Homo sapiens: one gene and its partner. The protein of the gene in region 2 interacts with the protein of the main gene of each other region in a biochemical or structural test. Each region holds a gene or a part of one and is shown on either strand. Other genes may lie near its edges.

The links. Proteins that work in one complex are often made in the same cells at the same time.
Region 1: of the proteins of USP28 (region 2) and ATXN3L, one has a biochemical effect on the other in vitro, tested with the Homo sapiens proteins (one large-scale study listed by BioGRID).

What each region holds. Positions count from the first base shown.
Region 1 is NC_000023.11:13,318,147-13,321,272, forward strand, and holds ATXN3L (ataxin-3-like protein), read right to left. Parts: upstream 1,908-3,126; 5' UTR 1,789-1,907; coding exon 721-1,788; 3' UTR 501-720; downstream 1-500. UniProt on the Homo sapiens protein: Deubiquitinating enzyme that cleaves both 'Lys-48'-linked and 'Lys-63'-linked poly-ubiquitin chains (in vitro). Acts as a deubiquitinating enzyme for the transcription factor KLF5, playing a role in the regulation of KLF5 stability.
Region 2 is NC_000011.10:113,809,573-113,813,072, reverse strand, and holds part of USP28 (ubiquitin carboxyl-terminal hydrolase 28), read left to right. Parts: intron 1-568; coding exon 569-797; intron 798-3,500. UniProt on the Homo sapiens protein: Deubiquitinase involved in DNA damage response checkpoint and MYC proto-oncogene stability. Involved in DNA damage induced apoptosis by specifically deubiquitinating proteins of the DNA damage pathway such as CLSPN.

The DNA.
Region 1 (3,126 bases), on a different chromosome or scaffold from region 2:
GGTTGGGCCACTGCAGTCCAGACTGGGCGACAGAGCGTCTTTGCCCCCATCACCCCACCCCCAAACAAAGAAAGAGTAATGCACCAGAGTCATGAAATAATGATCTTACCACAGAGGGCGTAAAAAACAAAACCTCAGAAAATATTACCATATTTCGAAAGACTTGTGGAAAATAATTAAGGACCAGGTAGCAGAAATTGTGATCAGAGGAAATAACATAAGAATATACTTAAGCGCACAGTACATAGTTGGAGGGAGAACTGTTTATCCTTCTAAAACCGTTACTATGATCAACACAGACAAGAGACACTTCCCTGAAAGGTTAAATTGTTTCATGAGAAATAAAAGCAACCAAAATGAGCCACATTATCTACAATAGAAGAGACTATATGGAAAAAGTTCTATGGCAAGAGCTAATTCGTTGGTATACAAAAAGATCCATGAAAAATGACCCAATTTTAGACACATTAGATATTGCAGGCTCAAAAATCAAAGGAACATTTTGAAAGCTAATTTAAATTTAATTAATTGCTGAATGTCTCCTTGGCTAGTAGTTGAACGATCATTATTTAGTCCCACATCTCTCTCGTCATTTTGTTTGCAAACTGTCTAAAAGCCTTATTTCCTCATCTCTTTGACAGATGACCAAAATGGATCCTACAGTATAATCACACAGGATAATGTTGGAAAGTATGACTATCTAAATTATTTTTAAAGGCATTATTTTTCCCCTTTGATTTTCAAATTCTTTCTCATAATTTCTAAAATGGTGTCGACAGCGGCCTGTACTGTGCCTTCACTGATGTCATCACTGAGATCACTCTCAATTGCTCTCGAACTTGTTGTTGGCCTTTCGTGTAGGTATGAACTGTGGCCCGGCAGATCTGACTGTTGTTGCTGCTGCTTCTGTTCCTGCTGATGCTTTTCAAAATAGTCTTCTTTTATTTTCTTCGGCTGTTCTGAAGCAGGAGTTACACATGATGTCTTTGGAAGATCTTGCGATGTGTTTCCGGAACTACCTTGCATGCTTAACTCAATAGTACTGCGGAGATGTTCATCTTCTCTATTGGTTTCTTGGCGGCTTAGTTCAAGGGCCCTCTGAAAATCCTCCTCATCTTGGTCTGATGTTCCAGACTCATCACTTTCTTCTGATACTTTTTCAAGGACTGTTTTATAGACTCTATGCTCTTTTTGTTTTACTAATTTTTTTCCATTAAGTTTTGGTGTATCCATCTCTTCGACACTGATGATCTGCAGGAGTTGGTCAGCTTCACAGTCTGGCAGATCACCCTTGACAACAAATACAGAATATGCTTGTTGTTGTAATCGAGCCAAGAAATTTGCAAGGCATGTATCTGATATTAATTCTGGACCCGCCAAGAGAGAATTCAAGTTAAACCAGTGTTTTCCAAATTTTCTAATAGTAAACCAGTGTTGTTTATAATTACATATAAAAGATCTTTCATTTATAGGATCAATGCCGAGCTTCTGATATTCAGGATTATTGAAATGGATGATCTCTAAACCCCAGAACTTCAAGGCATTGCTTATTACCTGAATGGAGAAGAAACCGGTATCATCCATGTTTTCTGAAGGCTGCTGTAAAAATGCAAGATACTCTTCACTGGTGACTCCTCCTTCTGCCATTCTCATCCTCTCTTCTTCATCTAGCTGATGTGCAATTGAGGCTAATTCCACAGGGCTAAAATATTCTCCTTGCAATAGATTGTTCAGACAGTGCTGAGCACACAGGAAACCTTCCTGTTTCTCATGAAAGATGAAATCCATGTTAATTGTATCCGTGAGTTTCTGTAGGTATGCCGGAAGATGTTGTATGCCCAGCTATGGCAGTTACCTGGGCAGTTTGTGGATAGCCATGTAACAGATGTTAGGTTTTCAAACCTTATGAAGACCATGGGTTTTTGCAGGTATTCAGGTAAGAGATGGTATGTCACAAAGCACTATTGTGACCAAGGTGGTTTTGCCAGTATCCAGTCAAAAGCTGATGGTAAACCTAAAGTGAATATGGGATTTTGGAGTTATCCCATAGATGATAATGGTGACTTGCACCATAGTAGTGCCCGTTGGAATTTCAGATGTCCTATAAAAATAATGTCTCTCTAATTATGCTTGTCAGCATGGTTTTAGTAAGTAAATAAAGGTGAAATTTACCACAGCACTAAACAGAAGATTTGGCAGGTAACTGGGAGAGAAATAACATGGGCTTTAACCGAATGGACACCATGGGATTTTGGAACTGTCTGGCTAAGTTATCATGATGTCACTGACCACAATAATAGCCATAGAATTTTGTAGGTTCCAGTCAATAGATGACAATAAAACTCACAGTGGCAATGAAGATGGGACTTTGCTGGTATCCTAGTTAGAGATTATGTGGACCTGAAAAACATGAGTGACCAAATGATCTTCAGACATCTAGAAAACTGATGATGATGTCCTGAACTCTTTTCTTATCCATGTGTTTTTACAGGTGTTCAGGTAAGAAATGTATGTGCCTAACAAAAGTAGTAACCATTAGATTTTACTGTTTTCTAGTTCAGAGACAATCTTTCTCAAACTTAGTAGTGACAAAGATATTAGCAGGTATCCGGGTAAGATATCACAGAGTTCCTCACCACAGTAGTAACTATGGGATTTTTGCAGGAGTCCAGTGAACAGACAGTGTGTGAAACTACTATGTTGACCTTGGACTTCTCTTGAGTGTCCAAGTACACTTAGTGGTTGCCCTAATGATTATAGTGAGTGTATGCATGGAATTATCAGGGGTCCAGATGGAAGGACATGTATCCTGACCAGGGTTGCCACCATATGTTTTCTCAGCAGGTAGTCAAGAGATGATGGTGTCTCTAACTACAACATTGGCCTCAGAACCTTAAGATTCAGGTAGAGTTCATGGTTCCCCTAACAATACTAGTCACCATGGGATTTTTTGAGGTGCGTATAGAAGATGTATCCCTAACCACTACTGCTGCCATATGGTTTTGCAAGCTCCTATCAAGAGATAATGGTGAAACTCATATTAGTCATTTTTGTAGGAATTTCATGGAATCTAGCTAAGTGATTATGTGGACCTTAAACACAGTACAGACCATCTGCTCTTCAGAC
Region 2 (3,500 bases):
CTCTATTTTCTCTATATTGAAAATACACAAATGTGCTTTTCAAATGTTGTAACAAACAAGTATGTCATTAAAAGGGTCTTCACTCCAGATAGATAAGTGGTCACTTAACTCTAAGAAGCATGTGGCTGAATTAAATATGTTAACTTAAATTTTGTTGCCAAATAAAATAGGCATGGAACAAAATAGCTGCTAACCTTTGTAGGTCCCAAATATGCTAAGCATTTTCAGCATGAGTGGTCAAGGTGATTCTATTTTTAGATAAACAGAGTTTTGAATTAGAAGGATGCATATGTTTAGGTTATGTTTGGTTTTAGATCTGAGGAGTTTAGAGTTGAAAGAGTCTTCAGAGAGGTCATGTAGTTCAGCGATCTGGTTTTCAAGGTTTTGGAACTGAGACATAATTGATCAATTCCAAGGCTGTGTTTTTGTGGACTTCATCTTGAATCAACAAGATGTTTTAATATGAACCCCACATTAATCACATCATAAACAGTAATTTCTTAATAACCTAAACTTTATCAGATTACTTTGCTTCACCTGACTGGGGAATGTACATTCTGACTTACAGGTGCCTTATCGCTTGCATGCAGTTCTTGTTCATGAAGGACAAGCAAATGCTGGACACTATTGGGCCTATATCTATAATCAACCCCGACAGAGCTGGCTCAAGTACAATGACATCTCTGTTACTGAATCTTCCTGGGAAGAAGTTGAAAGAGATTCCTATGGAGGCCTGAGAAATGTTAGTGCTTACTGTCTGATGTACATTAATGACAAACTACCCTACTTCAATGCAGGTAAAAGTATCTTGGCAGAATCTATAGATTGGGGAAAATCTGTACTGCTCAGGGAGAAGAACAGTCTTGTACTGCTTTTTAAAAAATTTACAACTTACTATTATATAATAATAGATTTAAAAAATATAGACAGTATAAAAGGAAATGAAAAGGAAAAACAAGTTTGCTTTACTACTTTCTTCCTTGACCATGGGTCCCACTCCCAACAAGTACACAATGTTAGGTTTCTTATGTAGTCTTCAAGACACATTGTATACATATGCTAGATTCTATTTATCTGTATCTTCCCCTCCCCCTTTTCCCCAAGTAGATTATTTTTCCATTCAACTCTGAACCTTTTTCATTAATCGAGTATTTAGCAATCTCTATATTTTTAGTAAAAGAATCTTAACTGTTTAACAACTATATAGTAATTCATTGTGTGGAATATACGTATTTTTAAAATTTACTCGTAGATAGACTAATTCTCTAGTTGTTGTTGTTTTTAGTGACATCTTTTTTTTTTCTTGCCCCATCTTATGGTGCTGATAGTACATATATTTTTGCACCCTTTGGAGAATAACTAAATTTTTTCTTTCTTTTTTTTTTGAGACATAGTCTTGCTTTGTCGCCCAGGCTGGAGTGCAGTGGCGCAATCTCAGCTCACTGCAACCTCCGCCTGCCAGGTTGAAGTGATTCTCCTGCCTCACTCTCGCAAGCAGCTGGAATTACAGGTGCCCACCACCATGCCCAGCTGATTTTTGTATTTTTAGTAGAAACGGTGTTTCACCATCTTGGCCAGGGTGTTTTTGAACTCCTCACCTCAGGTGATCTGCCTGCTTCGGCCTCTCAAAGTGCTGGGATTACAGTTGTGGGGCCCAGAATAACTAAATTTTACAGGTGTATTTGCCTGAATAGTTTCACAGTTGTTGTAATACTACTACTCATACAGAGAGCAATAATAATTATCATTTATATTGGTACTTTACTTCTTAAAGCATGCTTTCAAACTTTTATTTCTCTAAGAACTTACAGCTGTGAAAAGGAGGGAAAGAGTTTGAAAATGTTGTCATCTTCATTTTCCAGCTGGATAACAGATTCCAAAGGGTTCTAAAGTTGAGTAATCACATAGTCAATAAATGGCAGTCCCAAGATTCAAATACAATTCTCCAAATTCTGTGGTGTTTTCAATTTACATTATTCTCTCTTTCTTTCACATCCTCTATGAGAGGTCTTATGATGAACATTTTATAAGTAAGATAGTAGAAAGCTTTTGCCTGTAGTATTCAAACTTTACTGTGTGGCGTAAGTAAGGAAACATCGCCCCGGCATGGTGGTTCACGCCTGTAATCCCAGCACTTTGGGAGGCCAAGGCGGGCGGATCACTTGAGGCCAGGAGTTGAAGACCAACCTGGCCAACATGGTAAAACCCTGTGTCTACTAAAAATACATAAATTAGCTGGGCATGGTGGCACACACCTGTAATCCCACCTACTTGGGAGGCTGAGGCAGGAGAATTGCTTGAACCTGGGAGGCAAAGGTTGCAGTGAGCTGAGATCGTGCCACTGCACCCAGCCTGGGCAACAGAGTGAGACTTTGTCTCAAAAAAAACAAACATGTAAGGTGTTCTGTCCAGGCAGCACGTTATCTTTCTGATTTGCTAGTGTGGTTGGGGATTAGGGAATGGAGAGAATGATAAATGAACAGTAAGTAATCTTCACAATTGTATATTTATGCTGCGAAGGAATGAATAGCTGCTTGAATGTACTAGCTGTTGTTAATATATAGGAGCCTTGTTATTGCATGCATGGTTTATTTTTCTATTATAGAAACAAACAAGTGGAAACTGTCATTTGCTTAGTGAAAAGGCTGATTAATGGCAACCAGTAAGTGAATGTGTTAATCTGCTATAGACTTTTTTTGTTTGTTTTGGTCACAGGGTTAGAAAATGAAATTTTATATGTCATTGATATCCTTGCCATTAAAGCCAGGTATTATTGACCATTTCACCATTGTATCAAATTGCTTTCTCATAGTACTGAATTGTATGAAAGTTGGTGGTATAAATGTCTTGAAATTCATCTCTAACCTTTTTGAAATGGACATTCTTATCCGCCAAATGCAGTGGTTAAATGGATAAAACTGTTTATCTTGAAATTTTTATTGGCTCTAATGATTTTCTGAATTTCCCTGAAATGATTGGTATATCCAGTGATTGACAGTGACCAGTTTCCAAATCTTTTTTTTTTTTTTTTTTTTTTTGAGATGGAGTCTCACTCTGTCTCCCAGGCTGGAGCGCAGTGGCGCAACCTCAGCTTACTGCAACCTCCTCCTCCCAGGTTCAAGCGATTCTCCCACTTCAGCCTTCTAAGTAGCTGGGATTACAGGCATGCGCCACCACGCTTGACTAATTTTTGTATTTTTTTTAGTAGAGACAGGGTTTCACCATGTTGGCCAGGCTGGTCTTGAACTCCTACCTCAAGTGATTGGCCTGCCTTGGCCTCCCAAAGTGCTGGGATTACAGGCGTGAGCCACTGCACCCGGCCCACTTTCCATATCTTTAACTCTGTGTTATTCATTCACTTAGCAGATGTTTAATGAGTGCCTACTAAATGTCAGGCACTGTTATCAATTGTTGCCCTTACATTGTCCATACAGGTTGAGCATCCCACATGTGAATATCCAAAATCCCAAATGCTCCAAAATCCACAAAACTTTATGAGC